Homo sapiens: one gene and its partners. The protein of the gene in region 1 interacts with the protein of each later gene in a pairwise test. Each region holds a gene or a part of one and is shown in the gene's direction. Other genes may lie near its edges.

The links. Proteins that work in one complex are often made in the same cells at the same time.
Region 2: the proteins of MRAP2 (region 1) and ISLR2 interact in binary tests that used the Homo sapiens proteins (3 or more experiments, as listed by UniProt).
Region 3: the proteins of MRAP2 (region 1) and BDNF interact in binary tests that used the Homo sapiens proteins (3 or more experiments, as listed by UniProt).

The regions. Positions count from the first base shown.
Region 1 is NC_000006.12:84,036,749-84,043,787, forward strand, and holds part of MRAP2 (melanocortin-2 receptor accessory protein 2), read left to right. Parts: intron 1-7,039. UniProt on the Homo sapiens protein: Modulator of melanocortin receptor 4 (MC4R), a receptor involved in energy homeostasis. Plays a central role in the control of energy homeostasis and body weight regulation by increasing ligand-sensitivity of MC4R and MC4R-mediated generation of cAMP.
Region 2 is NC_000015.10:74,133,586-74,137,341, forward strand, and holds the end of ISLR2 (immunoglobulin superfamily containing leucine-rich repeat protein 2 precursor), read left to right. Parts: coding exon 1-1,407; 3' UTR 1,408-3,217; downstream 3,218-3,756. UniProt on the Homo sapiens protein: Required for axon extension during neural development.
Region 3 is NC_000011.10:27,697,417-27,704,565, reverse strand, and holds the start of BDNF (neurotrophic factor BDNF precursor form isoform a preproprotein), read left to right. Parts: upstream 1-4,110; 5' UTR 4,111-4,402; intron 4,403-4,898; exon of another isoform or gene 4,899-5,160; coding exon of another isoform or gene 5,161-5,184; intron 5,185-6,394; exon of another isoform or gene 6,395-7,088; intron 7,089-7,149. UniProt on the Homo sapiens protein: Important signaling molecule that activates signaling cascades downstream of NTRK2. During development, promotes the survival and differentiation of selected neuronal populations of the peripheral and central nervous systems.

The DNA.
Region 1 (7,039 bases):
TACTTTACAGAGAACTGATTGGTCTGTTTCACAGAGAGCTGATTGGTCCGTTTTGACAGGGTGCTGATTAGTGCATTTACAATCCCTGAGCTAGACACAGAGTGCTGATTGGTGTATTTACAATCCTCCAGCTAGACAAAAAAGTTCTCCAAGTCCCCACTAGATTAACTAGACACAGAGCACTGATTGGTGCATTTACAAACTTTGAGCTAGACACAGGGTGCTGATTGGTGCATTTACAAACCTTGAGCTAGACACAGAGGGCTGATTGGTGCATCCAAGAACCCCGAGCTAGACAAAGAGTGCTGATTGGTGTATTTACAATCCTCCAGCTAGACATAAAAGTTCTCTAAGTCCCCACTAGATTAGCTAGACACAGAGCACTGATTGTTGCGTTTACAAACCTTGAGCTAGACACAGAGTGTTGATTGGTGTGATTACAAACCTTGAGCTAGACACAGAGTGCTGACTGGTGTGTTTACAATCCTTTAGCTAGACATAAAAGTTCTCCAAGTCCCCACCAGATTAGCTAGATACAGAGTGCTGATTGGTGCATCCACGAACCCCGAGCTAGACACAGAGTGCTGATTGGTGCATATACAATCCTCCAACTAGACATAAAAGTTCTCCAAGTCCCCACCTGATTCAGGAGCCCAGCTGGCTTTGCCTAGTGGATCCCACGCCAGGGCCATGGGCGGAGCTGCCCACCAGTCCCATGCCACAAGCCTGCACTCCTCAGCCCTTGGGCGGTTGATGGGACCAGGCGCCATGGAGCAGGGGGCGGCGCCCGTTGGGGAGGCTCGGGCAGTGCGGGAGCCCACCACGGGGTGGGGGGCTGGGCTCTGGCATGGCGGGCTGCAGGTCCTGAGCTCTGCCCCACAGGGAGGCGGCTGAGGCCCGGTGAGAATTTGAGTGCGGCGCAGGCAGGCTGGCAGTGCTGGGGGACCTGGCGCCCCCTCTGCAGCTGCTGGCCTGGGTGCTAAGCCCCTCACTGCCCAGGGCTGGTGGGGCCCACTGAGTCTGCGCCCACCTAGAACTCACGCTGGCCAGCCCGGGTTCCTGCCCCTCTCTCTCCCTCCACACCTCCCCGCAAGCAGAGGGAGCCAGCTCCAGCCTCGGCCAGCCCAGAGAGGGGCTCCCACAGTGCAGCGGTGTGCTGAAGGACTCCTCAAGCATGGCCGGAGCAGACACTGCTGAGGAGGTGCTGAGAGTGAGCGAGGGCTGCTAGCATGTTGTCACCTCTCAGTGGGGCCATTTGAGGGTGAGTTGAGCTGTCCATGTGCTTCTTGCATTTGGGGCTCACACAGGGGCCTAGGTGGCTGGATCACTCACCTTCCCAGAGTTTGTTGGGCAAAGGATGTCTGAAGATGATCTGGGAGCCAGGTGGGGCCACATGGGAGGAAGGGCTGGCCTAAGGGCGAGGGCCCCTGGCAGCAGAAGTAGGAATGAGCAGCCAGCTGAAGGAAGGTGAGTATTACTAACACACCCATGTGAGGTATGAAGATAGTTAATTCAGTCCTTTCCTCCTGCTTTGGTCTTGGAGTGATGTGAAACTAGCTAGCAGTTGAGTGGATGGTGGAGAAATAGAAAAGAAGTTTACCTTCCCCCAACCCCAGCAGGAGACCAGCATGCAGCAGGACATTGCAGAAATAGGGCAGATTTGTGTTATAATGGGTCAGAGTTTCTTTTGTTTCCAAAGATTAGACATTTTAATTCTTTTAGGTTTTTATATTTCTTATTTATTTATTTATTCATTTGAGACAAAGTCTCACTCTGTCTGTTGCCCAGGCTGGAGTGCAGTGGCATGATCACAGCTCACTGCAGCCTCAACCTCTTGGGCTTAAGTGATCCTCCCATCTCAGTCTCTCAAGTAGCTGGGACTACAGGCACAGAACACCATGCCCAGCTAATTAAAAAAACTTTTTTTGTAGAGACGTGGTTTTGCTATGTTGCCCAGGCTGGTCTTGCATTCCTGGGCTCAAGTGATCCTCCTGCCTCCACATCCCAAAGTGCTAGGATTACAATTGTGAGCCACTGTGACTGGCCTCTTTTGGGACTTTGAAGTTGTTGCATGAGCAGAAACATCATGGGATCTACTCAAGTATTTGTTTGAGGGCAGGGAAGATGAATCCCTTGAGTGTATTTTGAGGCGCAATAGAAAACCAAAATACAGTTGACATTTGAGCAGGCCCCACAAGTTGTGCTAGCTCAGAGTAGGTAACATATGCTTGGGTTAAAATTAAGTAGAGTAGCAATCTGTGTTTATTGTTACATTTACTTTTGACAAAGGAAGACTTAGAGGCAGAAGCAGTTAGAAAAGGAAAGAAAATGTTTACTTCCCCAGAGTGCAAGGGAGTCAGGCTTTATAAGACTGGCTCATCAAATAAAATCACAATAAATACTTGAAAGAAAATATTCCACCAAATTACCAAAGTTCTCCATTTACATTAGTCTGTTGTTCATGACTAAAAACAACTTTCTTACACAATTATCTATTCCTAAAAGTCGTGACTTGTTTTCAGACATCAGCATAGCAAACAATCAAGGGAAAAAATTATTTCTTTAAGGGAATGAGATGTGTTTGAAGTTTTATTTTGGAGACCAACTTTCAGGCAGGATGATCATGTTATTTTTGCTTCATGTCAGGGTACAAAGTGATTTTTTTGCTTGACTGGAGTATGAGAAGTGCTTAGTCCTATTGGAGAGGTGGAAACTGTGCATTTTCCTTGCAATCATGATTCTGCAGTCCCTTATAGTATTGTTGAGATATGAAGTAAAAAAGCAGAAGTTGAGACTAGCTTTATGAGATGCTAAAATTATATATGTTAAAATCTGAGTTTAATTGTTGCTCGTGTTTCTGTTATCAAGACCTGTGTAATTTTTGCCTCACTAGAGAACGTTAGTAAAATTTCATAACCCTTCAAGTGAAAATAGTTTGTAAGCTTCAAATAATTCTCCTGCAAGGTGCATTTGTTTTCCTCTTGCATGTTCTTGGTAATAGCAAAAATAACAATCACTGGAAGGCAGAGCAGGCTGAGGGAGGGGCTTCTTAAGGATTAGTTTTGAAGTTGCCTGGTTTAACAAGAGAGAAAAATTAGGAGCTGAGTGAGAGAATGTGGTTGTAAACGTTTTCTGTCTTTCTACAAACCTTTGTATAGATTATTTCAGGAAATATAATTCTATCTTCTGTGGGGAAAAAAAGAAACGAGAGAGAAAGAAACAAATTTAAGATCAACTATCTAATATAAAACCTACACCATATTCCTACCAGTGTGATATGATTTGGCTGTGTCCCCGCCTAAATCTCATCTTGAACTGAATTCCCATAATCCCCATGTGTCGTGGGAGGGACCCACTGGGAGGTAATTGAATCAGGGGGTTGGTTGCCTTCATGAGTTTTCATGAGACTGATGGTTTCATAAGAGGCTTTCCCTCTCTTCACTCTGACTTCTCCTTGCTGCCGCTATGTAAAGAAGGATGTGTTTGCTTCCCCTTCTGCCATGATTGTAAGTTTCCTGAGGCCTCCCTAGCCCTGCGGAGCTGTGAGTCAATTAAACCTCTTTCCTTTGTAAATTACCCAGTCTCAGGTATGTCTTTATTGGCAGCATGAGAATGGACTAACACCATAAATTGGTACTGAGGTAGTGGGGAGTTACTATTAAAGATACCAGAAAATGTGGAAGCGACTTTGGAACTGGGTAATGGGCAGAGGTTGGAACAGTTTGGAAGGCTCAGAAGAAGACAGGAAAATGTGGGCAAGTTTGGAATTTCCTGGAGATGTAGAGGGCTCAGAAGAAGACAGGAAAATGTGGGAAAGTTTGGAACTTCCTAGAGACTTGCTGAATGGCTTTGACCAAATACTGATAGTGATATGGACAATGAAGTCCAGGCTGAGGTGGTCTCAGATAGAGATGAGGAATTTGTTGGTAACTGGAGCAAAGGTGACTCTTGCTATGGTTTAGTAAAGAGACTGGTGACATTTTACCCTGCCCTAGAGATCTGTGGATCATCAGAGAGATGATTTAGGGTGTCTGGTAGAAGAAATTCCTAAGCAGCAAAGTGTTCAAGAGGTGACAGAGCATAAAAGTTTTGGAAAATTTGCAACCTGACAATGTGGTAGAAAAGAAAAACTCATTTTCTGGGAGAAATTCAAGCCAGCTGCAGAAATTTGCATAAGTAACAAGGAGCTAAATGTTGATTGCCAAGACAAAGGGGAAAATGTCTCCAGGGCATGTCGGAGACCTTTGTAGCAGCTCCTCCCACCCATGGCCTGGAGGCCTAGGAAGAAAAAATGGTTTTGTGGGCTGGGTTCAGGCCCCCCCTGCTGCGTGCAGTCTAGAGACTTGGTGCCCTGCATCCTAGTCATTGCAGCCATGGCTAAAAGGGGCCAAGGCATACAAAGGGGCCAAGGTATAGCTCAGGCTGTAGTTTCAAAGGGTTTAAGCCCCAAGCCTTGGCAGCTTCCATTTGGTGTTGAGCCTATGGGTAAACAGAGGTCAAGAATTGAGGTTTGGGAACCTCCACCTAGATTACAGAGGATATATAGAAATGCCTGGATGTCCAGCCAGAAGTGTGCTGCAGGGACAGAGCCCTCATGGAGAACCTCTGTTAGGGCAACGCAGAAAGGGAATGTGGAGTCAGAGCCCTCACACACAGTCTTCAGTGGGGCACTGCCTAGTGGAGTTCTGAGAAGAGGGCCACTGTCCTCCAGTCGCCAGAATGGTGGATCCACTGATAGCTTGCCCCGTGCACCTGGAAAAGCCACAGACACTCAATGCCAGCTGTGAAGGCGCCAGGAGGGGGCTGTACCCTACAAAGCCACAGGGGTGAAGCTGCCCAAGGCTATGGGAGCCCACCTCTTGCATAAGCATGACCTGAATGTGAGATATAGAGCCAAAGGAGATTATTTCAGAGCTTTAAGATTTAATTACTGCTTTATTGGATTTCAGACTTGCATGGGGCCTGTAGCCCCTTTGTTTTGGCCAATTTCTCCCATTTGGAACAGTTGTATTTACCCAATGCCTGTACCCCCATTGTATCTAGGAAGTAACTAACTTGTTTTTTATTTTACAGACTGATAGGCAGGAGTTGCCTTGTCTCAGGTGAGACTTTGGACTTGGACTTTTGAGTTAATGCTGGAATGAGTTAAGACTTTGGGGAACTGTTGAGAAGGCATGATTGTGTTTTGAAATGTGAGGATATGAGATTTGGGAGGGGCCAAGAGTGTAATGATATGGTTAGGTTTTGTGTCCCCACCCGTCTCATCTTGAACTGTAGTGCTCATAATCCCCATGTGTTGTGGGAGGGACCTGGTGGGAGGTAATTGAATCATGGGGGCAGTTATCCCCATGCTGTTCTCCTGATAGTGAGTGAGTTCTCATGAGAGCTGATGGTTTTATAAGGGGCTTTCCCCCTTTTGCTCACACTTCTTGCTGCCGCCATGTGAAGAAGGATGTGTTTGCTTCCCTTTCCACCATGACTGTAAGTTTCCTGAGGCCTTCTTAGCCATATTGAACTGTGAATCAATTAAACCTCTTTTCTTTATAAATTACCCAGTCTCAGGTATGTCTTTATTAGCAGTATGAGAATGGACTAAAAACTTCCACTGAATTATCCCAATGGGAGAGGAGGGTTAATCCTTATTTCTAGGATTCTGAAGCAGAGGCCAAAGGTGGCAGGAGCAAACATTTATTTGGTTCTTACAGTTTACTCTGTAACATATCTGCACTTATTTAATATAAAACATAATCCTCCAGGTCTTGTATTATTGATGCTCCAGGAAGATGAACCAGGTATGCCCTGAGACTCTGGGGACTATTTGGGACCCTTAGACCTTGGCAAGCTGAGGGACACTATATTCTTGCCCTCACTTTATAAAGCCCCTCTTTTCTGGCCAGGCCCCTCCCTGAAAGATGAGGAGGCTATGGGGTGCCTTGAGCCTGCACTGCCCTTGCACCCCAAACTCTGGTTTGCTTGTAATTGATTGTCCTGAGGTTGCAGTGGGTGCAGTAGGTGGAGAAACCACAAGAGCCACACATCCTAGTTTAAGAGCCCAGGCCTCAGAAGATAAGATGGTCATTAGAACGTTCAGCTTTTCTACTGCTGTGTCTCAAGCTCTTAAATAAACCACTGCTTTAACTTACATTTCCATTTCTGTGGAACAGAGCTGGAAATACCTGGTACCTCTCCTTTTCACTTGTTTGCTAAAAGAATGGTTCAGCTCAGGACCATAATAAATAGTGTGTGATATGGTGTGTGCTGTTTGGAGACAGATACCACAAGCCAAAAATACAAAGTAGTCTTGTTTGGCAAGTCATCCTCACAGTGATTTAAGACACGGCCAGTCTCTCTTCTTAGTCTTATTCTGCCAACTCTTTCAATAACTCCACTAATTAGAACTTAAAGAGTGGTTGATTCCCTGGTATTCTTAAAATGGTCTAATTTGAAAGTTTAAAATCTTTAAAGTTTTAATTCACCTAGTCAGGCCGTTTTAGAATAGCAGCTATATAAAACAGTATGAGGACTCAGTGAGAGGCCAAGTCTAGTCTTTGGGGAGTCTGATGTATACTTTCTTGCTACTAAAATGAGAGATTCAGATAATCCACATAATGGGATTTAAGAGAAGAGAGAGATCCTCAATGTAGTGAAATAGTTGGAGAGATCTACTTGGAGGAGGTAGTATCTGATCCCTACCCTCAAGGGTAGACAGGAATCTGGAAAGGAGGGAGAGGAAGTCCAGCTTGCAGGTGGAACTGAATGGGCAAAAGCTCAGAGGACCATTTTGAGGGTTCCCCCGCTGCAGGTTCCTGTACCATCATGAGCCCTCCCTTTTTTAATGACCCTGTTGTTTCTACTGTCTATGTCTTCAGGCTTTTGTGTTGTCCCTCAAGCTGTGTGTGTATGGGGGGGTGAGGGGTGTGGGGTGAGTGGGTGGGTGGGTGTATTTGAAAGAATGAAGTTCATTGTGTGGCAGAGGATAGTTTGAAATACAAGCCTGAATTCTTTAAGAGCACAGTCCACAGTCCTTGAATTTTTGACC
Region 2 (3,756 bases), on another chromosome or scaffold:
GGTGGCACCGTAGTCTTAGAGCCACCGGTTCTGAGCGGGGAGGACGACGGGGTTGGGGCGGAGGAAGGAGAGGGAGAAGGAGATGGGGATTTGCTGACGCAGACCCAAGCCCAAACGCCGACTCCAGCACCCGCTTGGCCGGCGCCCCCAGCCACACCGCGCTTCCTGGCCCTCGCAAATGGCTCCCTGTTGGTGCCCCTCCTGAGTGCCAAGGAGGCGGGCGTCTACACTTGCCGTGCACACAATGAGCTGGGCGCCAACTCTACGTCAATACGCGTGGCGGTGGCAGCAACCGGGCCCCCAAAACACGCGCCTGGCGCCGGGGGAGAACCCGACGGACAGGCCCCGACCTCTGAGCGCAAGTCCACAGCCAAGGGCCGGGGCAACAGCGTCCTGCCTTCCAAACCCGAGGGCAAAATCAAAGGCCAAGGCCTGGCCAAGGTCAGCATTCTCGGGGAGACCGAGACGGAGCCGGAGGAGGACACAAGTGAGGGAGAGGAGGCCGAAGACCAGATCCTCGCGGACCCGGCGGAGGAGCAGCGCTGTGGCAACGGGGACCCCTCTCGGTACGTTTCTAACCACGCGTTCAACCAGAGCGCAGAGCTCAAGCCGCACGTCTTCGAGCTGGGCGTCATCGCGCTGGATGTGGCGGAGCGCGAGGCGCGGGTGCAGCTGACTCCGCTGGCTGCGCGCTGGGGCCCTGGGCCCGGCGGGGCTGGCGGAGCCCCGCGACCCGGGCGGCGACCCCTGCGCCTACTCTATCTGTGTCCAGCGGGGGGCGGCGCGGCAGTGCAGTGGTCCCGCGTAGAGGAAGGCGTCAACGCCTACTGGTTCCGCGGCCTGCGGCCGGGTACCAACTACTCCGTGTGCCTGGCGCTGGCGGGCGAAGCCTGCCACGTGCAAGTGGTGTTTTCCACCAAGAAGGAGCTCCCATCGCTGCTGGTCATAGTGGCAGTGAGCGTATTCCTCCTGGTGCTGGCCACAGTGCCCCTTCTGGGCGCCGCCTGCTGCCATCTGCTGGCTAAACACCCGGGCAAGCCCTACCGTCTGATCCTGCGGCCTCAGGCCCCTGACCCTATGGAGAAGCGCATCGCCGCAGACTTCGACCCGCGTGCTTCGTACCTCGAGTCCGAGAAAAGCTACCCGGCAGGCGGCGAGGCGGGCGGCGAGGAGCCAGAGGACGTGCAGGGGGAGGGCCTTGATGAAGACGCGGAGCAGGGAGACCCAAGTGGGGACCTGCAGAGAGAGGAGAGCCTGGCGGCCTGCTCACTGGTGGAGTCCCAGTCCAAGGCCAACCAAGAGGAGTTCGAGGCGGGCTCTGAGTACAGCGATCGGCTGCCCCTGGGCGCCGAGGCGGTCAACATCGCCCAGGAGATTAATGGCAACTACAGGCAGACGGCAGGCTGAACCTCCGCCCGTCCGGCCCGCCCATTCCCGACCTCCACCTAGGGTGCCTGGGAGCAGCAGTCTAGGGCTGGCAGGACTTATGTCCCCCGTCCCCAACCTTCACCTACTCCTCCCCCTTACTACTCCCCAACCTTGACTACCAGGGACTTCTATTAGGGAGTGGGCCGATTTCACCAGTCCCTGCTACCCACGGCTGCCATTCTCCCTGCGGGCTGAATCCCCTTCCCCGCCAAGCACAGTGTTTATCTTACCCCATGCAAGACTCCACCCGCAGACGGTGGGCGATATCTATGTCCCTCCATTCCCGTCGCGATTATCTGCGAAATCCACCCCGCAGCCCGCCCCACCGTGGGCTCTGGAGCCAGAGGAAACGAGCGAAGACTTTGGAAACCTCGCGGTAACGCGGTGGTTTCGGGGGCCAGCCAAGGCCAGTGGAGTGCTGTGGGGTCCCACCTCGACCCCTCCTCCTCCCTTTCTTTCTTTCCTTTTTTTTTATTTTTTAATTTTATTTATTTATTTATTTATTTTTTGACGGAGTCTTGGTCTGTCGCCAGGCTGGAGTGCAGTGGCGCGATCTCGGCTCACTGCATCTTCCGCCTCCCGGGTTCAAGCGATTCTCCTGCCTCAGCCTGCCTAGTAGCTGGGACTACAGGCGCGCGCCACCACGACCAGCTAATTTCTTCTATTTTTAGTAGAGACGGGGTTTCACCATGTTGGCCAGGATGGTCTGGATCTCTTGACCTCAGGTGATCCATCTGCCTCGGCCTCTCAAAGTGCTGGGATTACAGGCGTGAGGCACCGCGCCCGGCCCCTCCTCCCTTTCAATCCCTACTCCCAGAAGCCGGGATTCGTGGCAACCCCTAGTTTTTAGTTCCAAAGCCTCCTGCCGGCAGGGAACCAAATCCTTCTGTCCTCCCACCCCCACCCCACTTCTGGCCAGTTGGAGTCCAGCCCGGTGCCTGGGGCGCCTTTCAGCTCCGCGCTCAGATTTTCCTGTTTTCGTTGTTTTCAAAGACAGCGACATTTCGGGTCTGGTGCTAACACCCCCTTCCCAGCCTCTGGGAAAATCGAGTGTGTGTGTCGGGGGGTAGGGAGGGAATGCGTTTTCTGTCGTCTCTCTCCTAACTTAAAGCGCCGCAGGACCGCGCGCCCCTTGGCGGCTGAGCCTGTGGACTTGGTCGCGGGCCAATTTCGTTGTCCGTGTGTTGGGCTTTCCGGAGGTCTGTGCGCCCAACAGCGCCGCTCCCGCGGCTCCACCCGACCCAGACCCTAGCTGGAAAGCGCCGGAGGCGGAGGAAGCTGACTGTGGCCTCCCGGGCCGCGGCTCTCTGGAGGGCTCGCGCCCTAGTTCGCACAAAGCCTGCTCGTGACTGTGCGACTGTGCGACGGGATCCGGATGGAGCCGAGCCCCTCCGTCCTCGCGTCTCGGTCCTCGCGTCGCCCCGCCCCACCCGCCCCTGCTTCGGCGGGAATCGTGTTTGCCCGGCGTGTAGTCCCTGACAAGCGTGCCCTGTAGGAGAAAAGTCTGTGTCCTGTGAAGTGTGACCGTGTAGTGTAGGGGGGCGGGCGGGGGGGCGGATGGGCGGGGAGGGAGGGAAGGGGAGGGGCGCGGCGCGGCGACTCGGGGCGGGGTTCTTTTTTCCATTTTGAAAGAAAGCGTCGGGGTTGGGGTGGGGGGAGTTTCAGTCCTCGGGATCAGCCCTCTCCGCGAAGCGCAGCACAAGCGCGGGCCTGGGACGGAGTAGCCCCCCGGAGCCCGTGCCCTTTTCTAAACGCGTCTGTATGCAGTCAATAAAACAATCGATTTGAACTGGGCTCGGTGACTTTTTGTCAGGGGACAGAGGGAGGAGGCCTGGGCGATGAAGGAGGAAACCGCGGAAGGAAGGAGCCCCCCCAGAGCCTCCCGTTGGAATCTTTTGAGTGATTTCCTGTTTGCGTGACCATCCTGTGATTTTTTTGCCAGGTGTTTGCACCCAGCCCTGCTCTTAGTGTCTCCAACTCCAGGGTGGGGTGACAAAAAACGAGGGCAGGCTGCAAGTGAGTAGGGGGAGGTTGCAGGAAAGGAAGGCGGGTGTCTGCAGACCCTGAACACAGGGAGTCTGAGTGTGCGTGCAAGTATATTTGCACTCAAGGGTGTGCGGCACCCTCTTTCACTTGAGACTGTCTGTGTAGTGGGGTGTGGCTGTATATGGTGTCACACTGCCCAGTTTCTGTGTCTCCACATCAGCCTTTGAGTTCCCTGAGAAGCCGGTGGGAAGAGGATGGGATTCATAGGGACAAGACCGCTGTGGCTTGCACAAGAGAAGTCACAAATAACACAAAGTACAGAGCGGGCAAATGATGTAAAGC
Region 3 (7,149 bases), on another chromosome or scaffold:
GACAACTTATTTTTTTTTTCTTGCAAGGAATACTGAAGGTAGGAGTAACTAGGAAGCTTAAATAAACATAAATATAAAATGCTTATAGTGATAGAATTGACCTCAGCCAATTAAAATTATTAATAGAAAAAACATGTCAATGTCAAGCCTACTACCTCTGTTCTCACTTGAGTAATGAGGATTAGTTTATATTTCCCGACAAGAATAGATGGGAATTCAAATTTCTTCCTGACCTTTGTTCCCCCTGGAACATTGGGTTAGGATCATATTAGAACATAACCAAAAAGAAATAAAGATTCAGACGAATTCACAATTAATTTTTAAGCCCCACAAAAGTGAAATAGGTAGCATTATTTTTTCAAGCTGTGAAACTTTCCCTCATTTTAGTAATAGAGAAAATGTTCAGATTATAAACTTGGAAACTTTGCTCCTAACATATCAATTATGCCAGAGGCCAATTTTTAAGAAGAAGAGAAATGCATGCTCTATATTCTCAGCATCATCCTTGCCCACAATAGGGAAATAATTTTGTAAAATGTTTGATTTTAGACCTCCAAAATTATCTCTATATGCTACCTGAATTAAGCAAATAAAAAATAATATTTAGAATTCCATGCAAGGCACTGGTACAATTTTGTTTATCTTGGCTTCATTGTTTTTGAATGTAAGATGTACTTTTAAGGCAAATAAGTACATGTTTTAAGCTGGTCGCATACAGTATTGGCAATGCTATAATCACAAATCAGAAAGTTTGGAAATGCTTACAAGTGTTAAGAGGTGTGATTCATCATGGTTATCTGAATTGGCATCTGATCTTCTTTTCTTTCTAAATATCCCTGACATTTCTGACTCCTCTGTCTTTTCCTCAGTAAAACTGCACCACACACTGGAAAGCGAAGATACACACATTTATTTATATAATGTCAAGGGAGAGTAGGAATAAGAAGATTGGCCATAGACCCACCCAATCAGAGTCTGGGAAATGAGAACACTTTTTCCTTCAGCAGAAATGCTGACGTGCCAATGTGAATTTAGCAGAAAAAAGATTTGCCATAACTTCTAAGTGAGCAGCCTTCAGAATGCTAGCTTAGATTCCTGGCATTAACTTGCCAGGTATTTTTTCAGGAAGGAAATAAATTACAATTGAGCTTAAAAACCTGAGGGTAGAACTCATTTTCAAGCAAATGTGAAGCATCAGTTTGAAGTTAACAAAGTTAAAGTTTGGAGTAGGGTTCCTCCAGTCCTTTATAATGTAGTACAAGTATTTTTTTTAAATGTATAACACTAGCCTTTTAAATTGTATTGTGCTACTAAAAGAAATTGTGCCTGCATTCATCTTACAACCTGGGAACCAACGCAGAGGGTCTGTGGGGTAGCGGTATCCAGCTTCATGCCCTCTGTCCTTTATTGCTTTCTGGTTAGCCTGCGTATTTCACATACATTAAATATTCCACAATAAACTCTGCCATCTGTGCTGTAGGGTAGTTTGTATTGGTCATGTGCTCTGTCAAGTTGACAGAGGTGCAAAGCTAAATGTGTGACACTCGAAGAATATGCATATATTTGAATAATTTGACTATTTAGTCCAACAATTTGCAAAGGCGCTCTGAATGATCACACATTCTGATAACACTTCCAAGGAACAGATAGCTTCACTTAGGGGGTGGGGGAGATGGAAGCAGGGTTATTTCTAGCAGGAATTCTTGAGTTCACTGAAGTCTTGTCCCTGGTACTTCACTGTGTGAACGTGGGTAAATTATTTCCTGGCAGAGGATCGGATTCTTCTTTTATAAAACGGGTAAATAATTTCTGTCACTAGTCTTTAGAAGTTCTAAAATAGCTAATGTTAGTGAATTCATTTTGCTAACTGTAAACCCTTAGGTAAATTGAACTGAGTATGTAATAATATTATATATTCAGTTCAACAGCACATTCTTGGTAACCACAAGAGGGTCCAGGAAAGGAAACTGTTTATAAATCTTTCCCTTTAGCAAAATTAATGTTGGAGTCTTTAGGGAAATTCTTACAGCAATAGTCTTCGCAATTATTAGGTCAAACCCCTTTGAGATTACAGAAAAACGCACACACACAGAAAGCTGCCTGCAGAATTTGGGTGTGGGCTTGGTGGGAGATTCCTCTGATACCCAGTGTTGTACCCCCAAGAGAGTGTTTCTCAAAGTGTGACTTCAGATTGTCTGCATTCGAATTGCTTGTGGTATTTATTAAAATTATAACTCCTGGGCCCTGCCCCACCCCTACTAAATCACAATTTCAGGAGGAGGGACCTTCATTTTAACACTCACCCAGGTGATTTTTATGCTCCGAGGAGGTCCAGGGACTCCAAGTTAAGTACGGTACTGCTGTCTTATTCTTTATTCTAAATTTTAAGGTCTGCACAAATTGGTTGAACTAATGAGAAGAAAATTCAGCTTTAAAGCAGAAACACAGGTAGACGGTTGACAGAGTTCATCAAATGGATAATTGAAAATGTCCTCTGGACCCTAGCCATATAAGTTCTCTTCAAGGGTCTTGGCTACAGGCAAATGAGAACCCGAAAGGCTATTTGCTCTTTTGCTGCGGGCAGTGGTGGGGGTGGAGGGCGGGGGAGGATTAACTGAGCCAGTTCTGCCCCCACCCTCGAATCACCTACCCCCACTCTGGTTAAAGCAGAAGACTTTTTATTTATCTTGGCTGCCCTGGTTCGTTATTAAAAGGGTTAGCTTATACGTGTGTTTGCTGGGGCTGGAAGTGAAAACATCTGCAAAAGCATGCAATGCCCTGGAACGGAACTCTTCTAATAAAAGATGTATCATTTTAAATGCGCTGAATTTTGATTCTGGTAATTCGTGCACTAGAGTGTCTATTTCGAGGCAGCGGAGGTATCATATGACAGCGCACGTCAAGGCACCGTGGAGCCCTCTCGTGGACTCCCACCCACTTTCCCATTCACCGCGGAGAGGGCTGCTCTCGCTGCCGCTCCCCCCGGCGAACTAGCATGAAATCTCCCTGCCTCTGCCGAGATCAAATGGAGCTTCTCGCTGATGGGGTGCGAGTATTACCTCCGCCATGCAATTTCCACTATCAATAATTTAACTTCTTTGCTGCAGAACAGAAGGAGTACATACCGGGCACCAAAGACTCGCGCCCCCTCCCCCCTTTAATTAAGCGAAGGGAACGTGAAAAAATAATAGAGTGTGGGAGTTTTGGGGCCGAAGTCTTTCCCGGAGCAGCTGCCTTGATGGTTACTTTGACAAGTAGTGACTGAAAAGGTGGGTTTGTTTTCTTTCTTTCTCTTTCCGTTTTTCTGTTTGGTCGGCTAGAAAGCGTGTGGCTTTAGCGAGGTCTGTCATTGCCTGGGCTTCCTGGCTGGAACAAGTAACTTGGTGTAACGTTATCTGGGGGCGTTCATCAATAAAAAATGCTGTTATTATCTTGATTGAATTCCTATTAGGCAAACTCTAGAGAGGTCAGTGCGCGAACTCTGTTTAAGCCGGCGTGTTTAAGGCAGCAGAGTAAACCAATAGCCCCCATGCTCTGTGCGATTTCATTGTGTGCTCGCGTTCGCAAGCTCCGTAGTGCAGGAAGGTGCGGGAAGGTGTGTCTGTGGCCCGGGAAACGCACGCCCTCTCCCAGAGAACTTGGGTGCTGGGATGGGGAGGAAGGGGAGAGTTGAAAGCTAGGGGAGCGAGACCTCGGGGCGTGCGATTCTCACTCGCTCCCTCCCGCCCCAGCGCCCACAGCCGGGGTTTCTGCAGAGGGCGCGGGACGCGGGGTTCCCCGGGGCTGAGGCTGGGGCTGGAACACCCCTCGAAGCCGCGGGCGTCCTGTCCAAGGCGCCCCAGGAGGGCGCAGGACTCGCAGGGCGATGTCGCGGGGCCCTAGGGGAGGAGGTGAGGACAGGCCCCGGGGGAGCGGGGAGTTCCGGGCGCCCCTCGGTTCCCCGCGCGAGGAAAAGACGCGGCGTTCCCTTTAAGCGGCCGCCTCGAACGGGTATCGGTAGCGCGGGCGAGCGGGGAGCGGGGGGCGGGGGGCGGGGGGGGGGGGGCGGCGCCGTTTGACCAATCGAAGCTCAACCGAAGAGCTAAATAATGTCTGACCCGGGCGCAAGGCGCAGCCTGGAGCTCCGGGTCCCCGACGCTGCCGCCGCCGCGCCCGGGCGCACCCGCCCGCTCGCTGTCCCGCGCACCCCGTAGCGCCTCGGGCTCCCGGGCCGGACAGAGGAGCCAGCCCGGTGCGCCCCTCCACCTCCTGCTCGGGGGGCTTTAATGAGACACCCACCGCTGCTGTGGGGCCGGCGGGGAGCAGCACCGCGACGGGGACCGGGGCTGGGCGCTGGAGCCAGAATCGGAACCACGATGTGACTCCGCCGCCGGGGACCCGTGAGGTTTGTGTGGACCCCGAGGTAGGCAAGCGCTGGGAATGGGGCTTGGTGCAGGAGCTGCCCGTCCGCGGGAGAGAGTTGACTGGGGGATCCCCCACCCCAAAGTTGTGGGACGAGGCCAGTCTCCTTCTTTCCTCCCCTCCGGTAGAAGGGACGATTTGGAGTTACTCTTGGGGAGTTTTCTCCCCCATCCCACAACCCAGAAGGTCAGCCGGCACCACCAGGGAAAAAGGGACCCGGGGAAGTCACGAAGTAGAGGAGGGAAGGCCTGGAGGAGACCCAGAGCTGCGTGATGGGAGCAAAGACGGCGACCCGGGGATCCCTCGCAGCCCTCCCCCAGCCCAGGAGTAGTCGAGAGAGACTTAGGGGGCCAGAGCTGTCGAGGGTCCTGACTGAGGGGAGGGTGCTGGGGCTAGGCTAGGAATCCTTCCAGGGGGTGGGTGGTCCCCGCGCCGACTTGCGGGGGGAGTGGGAGGGAAGCTTGCGCCTTCAGCCCGCATCCCTTCCCCGGAGCTGCACACGGCTACCTGCTCCCCAGGAATTGAGACTGAAGTGGACTTACAAGTCCGAAGCCAATGTAGCTTGGAAAACTTGGGAGGCGGAATTCCTACCGCTGGGAACTGAAAGGGTCTGCGACACTCTCGGGCAGGCCGAACCCACATCTCTACCCATCCTGCGCCCCTCTTCTGAAGCGCCCTCCAGGGAAGTTAAGAGTTTTGACTTTCGGGGAGTGGTTGGGATGTACGTGGGGGATTCTTGACTCGGGTTAGTCTCTGGGGATGCAGAGCCGGGAAGAGGAATGGGTGAGTGAGTTACTCCTGGAAAGAAATAGCTGAGGATTGGGGGCTCTGTGCCTGACGGGCAAGAAGAAGGGGAGATTACAGACTAGGGGCATCCCTAAGGAAGAAGCCTCGGGGCTGCGAGGGTGAACTGGAGGATGCAGTGTTTGTGTGTTGGGGGTAGAGCGGGGATGAGGGACCGGGGTGGAGGGGAGGCGAGGAGGAGGAGGGGACCCAGAGAACGAAGCTAGGGAAGGTAGAGGGTGCCCTCTGCCGGCCATGCTGCCAAGAGCAGCTACTGGGGGCGGGAGGCTGGGGGTGGGGAAGTGGTAAAGGAAGGTTTTGCGGGATCCCTTAGAGAGCTGGTAGGAGGGACTTGTTGAATGGTGCTGCTGACTCCAGCTCGGTGGGGCGTGCGACTCGTCGTCGGTGGATTTTGACTCCTCGTTCTTGTTTGGCTTCTATGCAAGTTTTCCTCGCGCTGGGGGAGCTTTGATAAGCCTCGATTGGCGGTGTGTTAGGGCTTCTTGGATCTTATTTTAGGGTCCTCTAGTTATCCTGCACTTACTCCTTAATGTCAGTAGCAACCAAAGAACATTTTCCGACAAGCACGCAGGAATGTTCTTGGCCAGAAGCAAAGAAAGGCATATTTCTGAGTGTTTATTAATCCTCCTAGTAATCTTTTAAAGCAAAGTAATATGTAATTGGGAACGTTGATTTTCTAACTGCATATAAAAGGCGACATGATATTAAATGAGACCCCTCCCTACTGACTCAATATCCTGCAAAATCTCTCTCTCCCCTTTATTATTATGGAAAAATCTATTTTTATATGAGTTTGTTGTAAGGTCAAAAGCCATTTTGGTCTTACAATTTGATATGTCTTTACATTTTAACTTATTGAGGCATAATTACAGATTTAATTTGTATGAACGTGTGTGCCTTCAATGCTTATCTCATGCAACATAATTTTTAGGTTGGAGATTTCTGATGTTATGGCATGTAGCGTTTCAAGGCATTACACATAATAGGTAACATAGCATGTTGAAATTACACCACAAAGTTTTGACCCTGGGAACAGCACCTTTTAAAAACAATCACTAAACTCCTGTTCCTGTTTTCTGATTTTGCAAATGCCTTGCTTAAGACTTTTTTTTTTTTTTTTTTTTTTTTTTTTTTGGGAAATTTACCTCTGGGTTAGCAGGAGAGGTAAAAAAAAGGAAAGAGACACTTGTTGAAATGTAACCATAACCTTTACTGGAATTTAAAACATGTTGGTCACCATTACTGGAATTCCAGGGCCATAAAGTCGTTGTCTTTTTTTTCTTCTACTTCATTTTGTAAAATGTGATAAATGTTGGTAAATATAGACCAGTAGTAAGTATTATGACACTAAAAGCATTATGTATGTGGAACTATTTTAAGTTATTACAGAACATTTTCTATTTATAAATGATATAAGCAGAAAGAAATGATTTCCAGATAAACAAGGCTTACGTACATGTTTTGAAGCATTAGAACATTGCAGACACTCTTAGACATCACATTTTTTAAAGCAAAATAACAGTAATTTTTCACATACCTTTGGAGCCTTTCATAGCCCATTCAGAGCTGAGTTAGTAGCTGGAAGTTTCCTTTATTTTAAGGTGATATTTTAAAACCATTTAACATGTATAGTAGGTCAACATTGGTGCATCCAGAAAATGAAGCATTTAGGAAATCTGTTTCAGTGTCTTTTCAATGTGTGTAACTTTTACTTGCAAACCAATGGAACCAAGAAAGTCATCATTTGCCTAAAATGCAGTCATCACCTCAAATGATTCATTTATACTATGTGAGTTAATTGCCTTCATCTCATTAATGGCCAAGGAGGGAAGGGAGGTCCTGGGGTATTTCTTGTTCATTTTGACTCACCAGGAGGGAAAATCCTGTAAAAAAAGAAATGCAAATTTCTAAAATCCTGGCTCAAAGTCCGTGGGTTTCCTGTTT